3 linked regions of the Homo sapiens genome follow. The protein of the gene in region 2 interacts with the protein of the main gene of each other region in a biochemical or structural test. Each region holds a gene or a part of one and is shown on either strand. Other genes may lie near its edges.

The links. The genes of interacting proteins can lie anywhere in the genome.
Region 1: the proteins of GNAQ (region 2) and RIC8B form a complex in vitro, tested with the Homo sapiens proteins (one study listed by BioGRID).
Region 3: the proteins of GNAQ (region 2) and CYTH1 form a complex in vitro, tested with the Homo sapiens proteins (one study listed by BioGRID).

What each region holds. Positions count from the first base shown.
Region 1 is NC_000012.12:106,882,682-106,886,181, forward strand, and holds part of RIC8B (chaperone Ric-8B), read left to right. Parts: exon of another isoform or gene 1-2,763; intron 2,764-3,222; coding exon 3,223-3,334; 3' UTR 3,335-3,500.
Region 2 is NC_000009.12:77,790,015-77,795,624, forward strand, and holds part of GNAQ (guanine nucleotide-binding protein G(q) subunit alpha), read right to left. Parts: intron 4,579-5,610; coding exon 4,449-4,578; intron 1-4,448.
Region 3 is NC_000017.11:78,702,274-78,705,773, forward strand, and holds part of CYTH1 (cytohesin-1), read right to left. Parts: intron 332-3,500; coding exon 265-331; intron 1-264. UniProt on the Homo sapiens protein: Promotes guanine-nucleotide exchange on ARF1, ARF5 and ARF6. Promotes the activation of ARF factors through replacement of GDP with GTP.

The DNA.
Region 1 (3,500 bases), on a different chromosome or scaffold from region 2:
ATTGCTGCCTTAATTCATTTGCACAATGCATGATTGTATGGCCAGTGTTCACTGACACCTTTCCTACAGAAGTATCAATGAGCCCAGGCATTACGTAGAGCCATGTGGAGAAGAAAATAATTCATACCTTCAGAGGAGCTTCCATTTTAGTGGGGGTTGATACAAAGCACCCAGAAAGTAAATGCTTGAGAATAGTTCACAAGTAAGAATTAAAATATAGGCCCGTTGTTCCATAATGAAATCCTATAATTTGGCCATAAAACTAATATTTTTAATTATTTGCATAATTGGATTAGGGAGCAAGGGTAAAGCTGATAGACTTATTTGAAAATATTACTTCTGGGTTTAGATGAGAAAGTGCTAGATACTTCACACAAGTTAGTAGCTAGCCCCAGAATCATCTTTTTATCAAAGAGATGCAGTAGTTTTAGTCTCAGGAGTGATGGTATATCCACCCAGCAGTTTATCACTCAGTCCCATCTGCCAATCCTACTTTTACCTATCCCTACCCTTCAGTCCCCACCCCACACCTGAGTTTACCAACCCCTTCAGACCCTCAGTGTTTCATTCCCAGCAGGTTCTCCCTCTTCTCCTTTTGCTTCAGTTGTTAATATGTAGTGTCCAACATCACAAAGTCCTTTAGCACAATCAGAACTAGGAATTTATTTAAAATATAGGTATGTAATTTACGTCAGTGCTAGAGAGAAGTTTTAATGGAAACGTTGTTTCTAGCTCTCCACTGAACATTTCTACATGGTTGTCATGTAGGCACCTCAAGCCCTTCAAGTCCTAAAATATATCAGAATCTCCCCACCAAATCTCCATCTCCTATGTCCTGGCCCCATTGAATAGAGTCACCATCCACTTGGTCATCTGAGCTGAAACAACAGGAACTCTCTACTTACTACTCTCATTCTCCAACCCCTTTTCCTCCCAGTGAGTCATGAGATCTACCTCAGAAATGTTGCCTTTTCTTCCCACAACCTCAGACTTAATCCAGCTGTCTGTCTCCTCCCCCACACACTATTATGATGACCCCCCTAATGACTTGTCTATCTGCCACCAATTCCAATGTGTCTATCATGCTGCTGCCAGAGGTACTTTCTTATAAAACAAACGTAATCAAACACTCTTTATAGGGTAAAATCTAAACTCCTTATTTTGGCATTTAAGACATTTTTGACTATTGCATCCCAAACTACCCTTGCAGCCTTACCTCCTGCCCCTCCTTCATTGAACCTCACCATTCCCCAAACACTGGGCCCTTTCCCGGCTTCATGAGAGCACAGAGATAGAAAAGATGAGCTGACACAATCCAAAAAGGTTTAAAAAGATAGAGAATCACACACGTCAGTGGGACCATTCAGAGCTCTTTACAGTCTCTTTTATCTGAAATGCTCTGTGCCCATCTGCCTAGTGCAGGGCCACTCACTGACACCTCACTTGACAGTGCCCTCCCCAGGCAGCCTGGTCAGTGCTTCATCTCAGGAGCTGCCTCACTTCTTTGTTCATAATTCTCTTACAGCATTTACCTCATTCTGCTCAAAATGACTTTTGCATATATTTGTTTTCCGTGCTCCTCAAAGGCAGCAGCTGTACCCAGTCTTCCTTACCTCCCAGTATATGACATAGTTCCTGTCACATAGTCATTGAACAGATGTTGAAGACATGAACTCAGTGTGCTCCTCCAATGCAGTTAGGGCAATTAATCCAGATGTGGTGGGCTGCAAAGATCACTGGACTAGGATTCAGGAGACCCATGTCCCAGGTCCAGCTCTGCCACTAGATAAGTGACCTTGGATGAGTCATTCAGTCTCCTTTATTAAAGAAGGGGGTTGGACTAAATGATCTCTCAGACCCCTTCCAACTTTAAGTTCTATGATTCTGACCCCATTTCTTGGATTGGGAAACACATTTCCTCCCTCATAGTATTCAGGAGCCTCAATTTAGCCTGTCAGACGTTCACATTTCCCAAGCAAAGCTTTCAAACACTTCGAAGTTGTCTACTGAGCTAGCCAGAGCTCTTCATTAGGCTCCTGTTGGCTTATCCATTGACCACTGAGCTGTTCTCACTCCTCCCCAGGAGATTTCACTGTGTCTGTAACACCATTACACTACTGTGTGGCTGCCCCTTCCCAGGAGGGAGCCCTTCTTTCTGTTGGCCTAAGGGACAACTGTGAGGAGGGAGTCATTTCCCCTCCATCCAAATCCCACCAACATTATAGCTGCTGCCATGTGGGTTTTTGCTTATGGACATGTTTTTGGGGGGTGATGCCCATTTCTGTGATAAATAAGTTTTAAGCAGTTCATGGGGCTCTTCAAGGCCACTCTTAAGTACACTGCTGACCTTTCTAGGGATGGGAGGACTGGAGTTAGCAACTCAACAGGTACATTCACCATAATCTCCATGTAATAAATAAGAGCCTATGAAAAGATTAAATAAATCTTTCCTAATGCTTTTTGACTGGCTTAATCAATAATTAATCATCTTTAGATGAGGCTGTAACTTGTGGAGTAGATATAATTGGATTAGCTGAAAAGCGGCAGTTGCGGAGCTTTGAAGAGATTAAAATGGCTGTCAATCCCATAATTAAACTGCCACAAACAAAAGCAATGGTGTTTTTTAGAAAGGAGGAGGAGGAGGAAAGAAAGAGTGAAAGAGAGAGAGAGAAGGAAAGAAAAGTCGGGGAGAGAGTTGGGGAAGGCCAACTAATTTGAAATGAATCAACATGTACTTACATATCACTAGAGACTGAGGCAAAATCAAAACCGACAGATTTATTCCATTGAATGAAGTGTATGCATATCAAATCAGCCATTTAATTGTATGCTCCAACCACTGGGGCAGGTGAAATTTTGGCAGCTTCAACTTGTCTAAAACAAAACCAATCCACCAAAAAAAAAAAAAAAGGTTAATTATTCAAAACAGAAGAGACCTGCTCCTTGTCCTGAGCCCATTTAGACCTTGACTTTTCATACTTTTAATTGGCTTAGTAGGTTTGGCCTGTGTGAATGAAGTCTTTTATCTCCCTCTTCCCTCTTTTTCTTTCCATGCCCCTTTCATCTTTCCTATTACAAACACACAGAGAAAGCTCAAGGGAAAATACTTTGGTTTTTAAAGACTTTTCTTTTTAAAAGGTTGTGGATTTGGGTGGGGGGGAGGGGTGTGTGTGTGATGCTGGTGAATACTTTTTTTTCTCTCTCTTTTATCTCTTTTTCTAGAGAGGAGTTGCTTAAACCAATGGGACTAAAACCTGATGGGACAATAACGCCTTTGGAGGAAGCACTCAACCAGTACTCTGTCATCGAAGAGACCAGCTCTGACACAGACTAAAAGCATCACCTGCTCAACTCTCAATATTGCTTTATCAGCATCTTTTCTCTGTAGCTCCAGGGGAATCTTTTCTCTAAAACATTTATGCCCTTGCTTTGGCTAGAAACACATTAACTGGTTTACTCATTGAGAATCCAGCATATTTAAGAGGTGACCCTGTGTTTTT
Region 2 (5,610 bases):
TGACTGAAAATGAACAAAGTAATGAGGAAAGAGGAAAGAGGTTAAATATTAAAATGCTAGGCATCTTTCAGGAATAGCCTTATGAATCAGGTCATGAATCCAAGCCAAGTGTACCAAAGGCCTAATTTGATTAAGATTCGATAAAGGCGGGCTTGATTCAATTCAATTAACGATCAGAGACCAGATATCTTAACCTAAGCTTTTACTTTTAACTACTTATAAATGTTCTTTAGGTCTTTCCTTTGCGATTTGAGTTTTTTTCTCCTCAATTTTTAGTCAGGTTTTCCCCGCAAAGCTGAATGTTATCTGAAGAAAATTCCCAAAAGCTCACTCAACAATTTTTAGAGCAGAACAAAGTACATGTTTCACACTTTTAAAGAAAATGTTCAAATTTTGATTGCAGCTGAGTAACTTCAAAATGGCTTCATTTTAAAACCTACCAGAAGAGACGGATCCAAAGGAAATGCATATTTTAGACTAATTGTTTAAAGATAGTTCAAAATCAAATGAGCAATACAGGAACTCTAAATGACTGGTAAAGGATCTCTGGCTGGTCTACTACTACCAATTGGTGTAAGAAGAGCTTAGAGGTAGAGGAGAGTTATTTCAACTCCTTCATGAAAGGGCAGGATTTTCATTCTACTTCCACCCTCTTTGCTGCCTTATAGCTCCTCTTGCTTTTTCTTTAAGTTTGTCTCTAACATCTAGAAGACACTATGAGGGAAGGGAAAGAAAGCTGGTCTGGAAGGGCAGGGGACCTGGCCTTCAGTGACCTTGGCCACAGGCCTTCATCTCTTCATTCCTGTAACCTCATCGTTATGACGCACACCAGCAAACCTGATCTGTCCCCGCCACGGTGAGGTCAGCTGGTAGATTCTGATGAGTAGCAGCTTCAGCAAGTTTTGGGTATAAAGTGCTAAGGTATTATAAACGTCTATGCTTTCCTTTTATCAATTGAGCAACTTCAAAAATCAGGTTTGAAGGATGAATACATGTTTATGGAAACCAAGGTCAGGGAATCCACCTTGATCAAGGAGGGCCTAGGGTAGGGAGAACTATCTTGACGTTTTAATAAAATGATAACATAATTCCTCATGACCATTTCAAGATGATTAATAAATTCAAAGCTCACATTCAAAGAGGACATGGAGGAGAAAAAGGTCTCAGTCTTTGAGATTCTATAAAGAGCTTAGCCTGGAAGACAGTCATTGAGACAATGTCTGAGAAAACATCTTTGTAGTAGTGCTCAGATATTCATGAAACAGAAAATCAGAAAAATAAAGATTAAAAGGCAGTGTTTGGATACACACTGATAAACTAAAATATGTTATAAGCATGTCTTATTGTGTGCTTTGGGCTTTCAGGAGCACTGAAATAACATACCCATGAAAGGATTACAGCAGAATAGTGGATTCCATGCTGGTGTGTTATCACAGGGAAAATAAGACAGCAAAGGGAATACACACATCAATAAGACAGTAAAGGGAATACGCAAATCAACACAGCTCTACCACCCTGGGTATTCTAGCCACTATTTGATAATGTATTTCCTTCTTTGAAGGAAAAAAGAAATTCATTCCCCAAACAATAGAAAGGCTGAGAATCTAGGCAGACAAAAGCAGACCTACATAAAATTATGAAGATTTATAAGGTTTTAGAAATATTAAAAAGCAAAAGCAATAATCTAAAATGCTTCCCTTAGCTGCTTTTGTCTGTGGTCTGCAATGCATTTTCCACAGTTTCCTGGGATAGAAAGAAAAGCTGTCAGAATCCATTCCTAGGTTTTTCTCACAAATATATACCAAGGGAGGGAGGCACAACAAAGTCTGCTTTGGATTAAAGTTATGAACATCAGACTTCTAAACCAAGAACAAAATGTTTCTGGAGTTTATTTCAGTTTTGTCTCACCAAAACCAAAAAATCTGGGGAAACTAGAATTCTGTAGTTCTGAATTTTCTTAATGATTAAGGAAGCTGAGAGGCAATGACATTATCATACATTAGTACAACTGGGGAAAAAAAGGGGTAATGAGACTACATCCCAACATTAAAAAATATTTTTTTGACAGTACTTCCTAATTACAGACAGTGATAGCTGTGGCTAATATGGATGAAGGAATTAATGAACAGCACTTTTCTCATGATCCCATACTATCATCAGGCTTGACTAGAGGTCTCAGAAAGGAACACCGTACAAGTTGACTTTCATCTTATAGAATTACCTAGACTTTCAAAAGATTCACAAGTGATTAGGGAGTCCTAATGAAAAAATGATAGCTTTATTATTTTAATTTGTAATTATTTAAAAGTAGCATAAGACATCACCACAGGAATCAAAGGAACTGGGACAATATTTTTAGACGTTCTTAGTACCTGTACATTGAATGTCAAGTTACTGTGGGAACTTTAATTATGACACATGATAATAAAAACGATGCCATTTTATTCTAATTAACATAATATACTTTTATATAAAAATCTAGTCACTATTAGCTATGTCTGAGGAAAAATGGAATAAATGATCTGTAATGTTCAGATAACTGAAGAACCAGATTCAATTCGGTTGAACTGAATTAGCTGATGAGTTGCCAAAGGATTCTACTTTCTTTTCTATTTTGATAATTTTGAAGTGGTAAATTGATAAGTATTACATCATGACATATACTTCTTCATATATATATAATGCATTTATCTTGTGGAAAATGTGTATTGATAAACACTTGTCCTCCTCTAGCTATAATGTAAACATCAGAAATAAATTCACATTTGCTTCTTACATCTCTTGTGTAATTGATAAATGCAAATTTTATTTTACTGGATGGCAAATTAAAGAAGAGAAATGACAACCTACATAACAAAGGCTTACCTTTCCCCCTATGGCTTATTCTGACCAAAAGCATATCTTGTTTATAAGGTCTTCTAGGGCAGAGTTGATTTTTTTCCCCATTTTTGTGTCTTTTTAGATACTCTGGTACCCAGCATATAGTAGGGAAGCCCTCAAAATATTTTTTTGTCTTGACACAACATTCAAAAAAATCAGAAGTGTTAGAATAGATCTGCTCCCAAAATATGCAGTATGTTTAAAATACTACATCCAGGGATTATGTAACAAACAAGCACAGACATAAAGATATACAGATAAAGATATCATAGCTAAAATTCTGACAGTAACTGCCTTGTATCTTGGTAACTTACTGTCATATATTGTAGCATGCTTTTAGGCACTTTGCTTTAGAGTTATTGGGGGCAACTGATTGATAAACAAGCCTCATTCTTAAACAGAAGTTATTTGGTTAACTCCAAAGCCAATATACTTGTAACTCAGGAATGATTCCGAAATGCATGAACAGGTGACTCTCGGTTCTATATAGACATTGGTTCACGGAAACTTTATCAATCCTATACATAAAAGAAATACTATAGGAGCTTGGATATGTATTTTAATGGAGATATTAATACTGGCAGAAAAATATTTAAAAGAACCAGTCAGGAATTCTTGTGTACCTAAAAAATGTACTGTATTAAAAGCATAATATGCTAGATCCTATTTTAGTCAGCAAACGGGGATCTCTCACTTCCTTCTTTTTTGCTACCCTATTATTGGGATATTTAATATTTATTATTAACCTACCACACTGCAATCTCTGCCTCTAACAGGATATCAATGGTGTCTTCCCCGTTCCCCCAACACACACATACACATGCACACAACTACAGCTCAGAAGTACAGATTTCTACATCCCTTAATATATTCCATAATCGATTCATCGTCAGGTCTTTACCATCCTGAAAATCCACATTTACACCTATTAAGTTTCCCTGTAACAGGGAGGAGATAACAATACTGAAATTGTTCTCCAGACAGGCATATTAAGGATACTTCTTCAACTGCTCACTGCTTAATAGAGACAAAATTATGCAACAGCCTAGAGAATTCTATAAGAGCAGAAAGGCCGCATCACCAAGATATTCCATGGTTCATAATGAACTGATTTAGAGCCCAGCTGCGAAGTCATTCACATTTGCCAAGAGAGATTTTGAGTACTCTTTGGGACACACCCATCACACAAACAATGATTTAAACAAAATGAAAACAAAACAAAACAGGATGACTCACTCCAACACTCCCAGTTCTATCCTGTAGGAGGAAGACTATAAAATGATCTGATGATTAGCCTAGGATTTCCATGTTATTTTCATTTTCAGAACCTCTGCATAGTGTTAAAAAGTATCAAATAGGCTCTAATTAGATTTGAACACAAAGACCTGCTCACACATCTGACAGAAGAGCTTACCACAGGATTATTTTTGGTTATTTTAAAAGTCCTAAAATCAAATTTCAAGAAAGCAAAGAAGTAAGTTCACTCCATTCCCCACACCCTACTTTCTATCATTTACTTGTATCAGATAATAAAATGATAATCCATTGCCTGTCTAAAGAACACTTACCTCATTGTCTGACTCCACGAGAACTTGATCATATTCACTAAGCGCTACTAGAAACATGATAGAGGTGACATTTTCAAAGCAGTGTATCCATTTTCTTCTCTCTGACCTTTGGCCCCCTACATCGACCATTCTGCAAGGTTAACAATACTCATATTAATAACATATAAAGTAAAACTAAAAAGTCAACATAAATATAGCACTACTTACAAACTTAGGGAAAATATTCTCTTGAATGACGATGATCATCCAAGTCAATTCAATTAATACTTATTGAATAATTACTAATTTCTTATTACCTAATATTCAAAGTTAAAACATTCTGGGTAACACATCATGATGGTTTTAAGAAAGTTACCAGTGTGTACGAAAACTGTAACACTGTAAAAAACATCCTTATCTGTGCCAAGCAAAATGGTATTTTATTTAATGAAGCGCTGAAGAGTCCAAAACTGAATGAGTTTTGTGTTAAGCCCTACTGGCAAATACTGAACTTCAGTTTCTTTTCCTATAAAATCGGAAAAAAGATCCTCATGTATTTCTTATGGATGCTAGATATGACTACAAGTATACTTAAAATATGTGAGATGCTATACAATTCAATATGGGTGGTATGATGCTTCCACTAAATGCAGATACGACCCCACTCATCCTTTATCAGCAGGGTCGGCATGTTGGGCATTTTTTTCTTCCCAATATTGATAAGAATTTGGCACAGGTCCAGTCATGTCAGGTCACTTACTTGAAATAAAGTGTGAGTGAATGAAGATACTACAAGGTACAAGACGGAGGCCATCATGTGAACCATTTCAATCATTTGTTTTTAACACATCAATTCTGTGCTGAATTACTGCTCAGAAACCAACACTGACATCAATTAATTTGAGTGACAATGTATGTCTGAAAATATCTAGCAATGCTTGGCACTGAGTCAAAGTTTCTCCAAATTGTTGAATCCGTATCTTGAATGAAATGTATACAATGTTCACAGGAAAAAAATAGTCTCAGAGAATGAGCGGTTTAGGTACAAAAATTTGAAAGTAGGGCTCTTTAAACATTTGTTTAAAATTGCAGTTGCTCCTGGTGTTTTCCTGCCTCCTGACATTAAACCTAAACAAGAACTAAGATCTTCTAAGTCACTACTCGTAAGCCTAGTAAGGCACAG
Region 3 (3,500 bases), on a different chromosome or scaffold from region 2:
TTGCTGGGAAACAGTTGAAAAGAAGGGGAAAGGGCACAGGAAGAAATGGGTGTGGGTGCACTGGAATATTTAATAAATACTTGCTAAGTGACCTATAAAGCCGGGGAGTCACAGTTTAGGAACAAGGGCTTAGTGCATAACATTTGCTCTACAAAACGGCAACATGAACTGTAACGCTTGGAAAAAAACGTTTTTAGGGTCTATCTGAGCACTATAAAAAAACCCCATCTAATATGGACCACTTCCCGCTTCTTTCTCACTTACCTTTTTAGGGTCCATATTAAATTTTTTCCTGCCCATGGCTACCTGTTTGTTCCTCTGCATGTTTTTCCTGTAAAACAACCATCACAGCCATTTTAGTACTTCAGGCCATCGGAAAGGCTTGAAAGACTAATATGATTTCCACTGATTTACACAGGTTTTTGAAAGATTTATCCAGGAAAGCAACAGGCATAATCTGGTGGAACTATGAAAGGCCAACTGAAACCTGAAGCCTGAACCTGGCTCCAAGCTCCAAGCTCATTTGCTCCTTCTACCCTGGAACAGAGGTTTTCTTTATTTTTTTTTGAGACAGGGTCTCTCTCTGTCTGAAGGCTGAAGTGCAGTGGTGCTATCTCGGCTCATTGCAACCTCTGCCTCCTGGGCTCAAGTGATCCTCCCACCTCAGCCTCCCAAGTAGCTGGGACCACAGGCGCATGCCACCATGCTCACTGTGTTGCCCAGGCTAGTCTCAAACTCTTGGGCTCAAATGATCTGCCTGCGTCAGCCTCCCAAAGTGCTGGGATTACAGGCATAAGCCACTGTACCCAGCCAGTTTTCTTTTTTTAACATGATTTTTAAAAAAACTTTATCAGGGTAGGCCGGGCACAGTGGCTCATGCCTGTAATCCCAGCACTTTGGGAGGCCGAGGTGGGTGGATCACAAGGTCAGGAGTTCAAGACCAGCCCAGCCAACATGGTGAAACCCTGTCTCTACTAAAAATACAAAAATTAGCCAGGCATGGTGGTGGGCACCTGTAATCCCAGCTACTCGGGAGGCTGAAGCAGGAGAATCACTTGAATTTGGGAGTTGGAGGTTGGAGTGAGTGGAGATCCACCACTGCACTCTAGCCCGGGTGACAGAGTGAGACTCCGTCTCCAAAAAAAAAAAAAAAAAAAAAAAACTTTATCAGGGTATAATTTACTTATAATACTCCTACTGTAGGTACATATTTGAATTTTTAGTATACTTACTAAGTTGTGCAACATCACCATAATCCAGTTTTAGAACATTTTCATCTCCCCTACAGAATTCCTCACACCTTTTTACAGTTAATCCTTACTTCTACCTCCATCCCCAGGCAACTATTAATCTATTGTCTGTCTCCACAGATTTGCCTATTCTGGACATATCATACAAACAGAATCATAAAAGATGTGGATTTTCAGATCTGGCTTCTTTCATTAGCATAATGTTGTCAAGGTCATGGTGCTGGAGCGTGGGCCAGTACTACATGCCTTCTTGCTGCTGGGTCATCTTCCATGGTATGGATAAACCACATCTGTTTATCCATTCACCAGATGATGGACACTTAGGCTGTTTACAGTTTGGGACAATTATGCAGAAGGCTGCTATCAGCATTTGCATATATGTCTTTGTGTGGACACGTTTTCATTTTCCTTGGGTAGATACCCAGGGGTGGACACTGCTGGGTCATACGGTACATCTGTATTTAACTTTTTAAGAAGTTGCTAAATAATAGGCAGTTTTCTTGACTGTATCAGAATGAAAAATGCAGATTCACAGACCAAGCTTCTCAAAGTCTGGTCCACCAACCAGCAGCCTTGGGAGCATATCAGACGTGAAGACGCTCCGCTCGTTTATACATACACGTCACCTGGGGCCTCAACAAAACAGATTCTGACTCTATGTCTGAGAAGGGGCCTGTGCTTCTGCTGTATGTTTAACATGATCCCATGTGTGGAGTCTGAGTAGCAAGGCCCTGGACCGGCTGAGTAACTCAGAAGTACAAGGGGCAGAACCTAGGAATTTGAATTTTTAAAACCTCCTGCAGTAATTCTGGTATGCACCCAAATTTAAGAACCACTGCCATCAATATCAATAGTAATTTTATAATCTCCGAGAGCAAAAAAGTTGCTCGGAAATAAAATCATAAAATGTTATTGCCTTAAAGAACACATGTGTTCTCTAGCTAAATCCATGGAGGGAAGAAAATATTCCTAAGTGTTTTGAGGGTTGGTGTTTTTTGTGTTTTTGTTTTTGTTACAGGCAGGGTCTTGCTCTGTCACCCAGGCTGGAGTACAGTGGTGTGACTGTGGCTCACCGCAACCTTTAACTCCTGAGCTCAAGTGATCCTCCGGCCTCAGCCTCCTGAGTAACTAGGACTACAAGCAGATACTACCACAACTGGCTACTTTTTAAAATATTTTGTAGAGACAGAGTCTTGCTATGTAACCCAGGCTGGTCTTAAACTCCTGGCCTCAAGCAATCCTCCTACCTTGGCCTCCCAAAATGCTGGTATTATAGGCATGAGTCATCGCATCCAGGCTGTTTTGACCTTTTGAAAGGAACACCTGAAAACTGTGAGTAGTATCAGAACTTCCAGGTGTAAGATAATCTGGGCTCCCCTGTCAACAGCTGCCTTAGGAAACAAAGTCATGGGGGAAACACCATTTAATTTCAGCCAGAATGAAGGGTTATGACCAGGTATCTAGAAATTCCTATTTAACTAAAATGATTGTCTAATCATTTTTTTCTAAATCCAGGAAGATTACTTTGATCAGTATTTCCAAACAAATACCACAAGGAAGGCCTGTTTCATGGTTTCCAGTGTAAGTGGTGAGGCAGCGTCAGAGGTGCCCACAGAAGCAAGGGGTGAAACTCCTGGGAATGCTCAGCTTCCTGGGCCTCAGTCCAGTCCTCACCAAAGGCTTTCCTGCAGCCACCAGAACGCACACTCCCAGATATCCGCCAGTCACAGTCTGTGCCACATGACTGCCTGGGACACACACCAGAGATGGCTCCCTAATTTCATTAGCTAGCCAGCTCACTTCTCTATCTGCCCCACTTGGAGCCCCTATAGCTCTAGGCCTTAGGCAGCTACTTCTCTAAGTGGCTTTCCCCAGCCTACACAGGTCTGACACCCCAGTTAAGGTGTCCAAAGGAAAACAGCTTACTGCTACTGGATCGCCTTAGTTAACTGACGCGTATACATTTCAGAAAGTGAAATCCTGTACTACATGAGTATATTATTTCTGCTTGATTAAATAGTATTTAGGATCATTCCTACAAAATGCATCAGATCGTCGATGAGAAACATGAATTCTCTCCTATAAGAAAGTCCGAGCAAATGTAATGCCTGCTTGAGAAACAAATGCAGGGTGAGCCTGAGTACCCGTATGGATGGATCCTCAGGGATGTGCAGAATCACTTCCGTCTTGGCGCTTTCGATACCGGAAAACCATTTTAAGTTCCAGATTAAAAAATAATAATAACCTAAA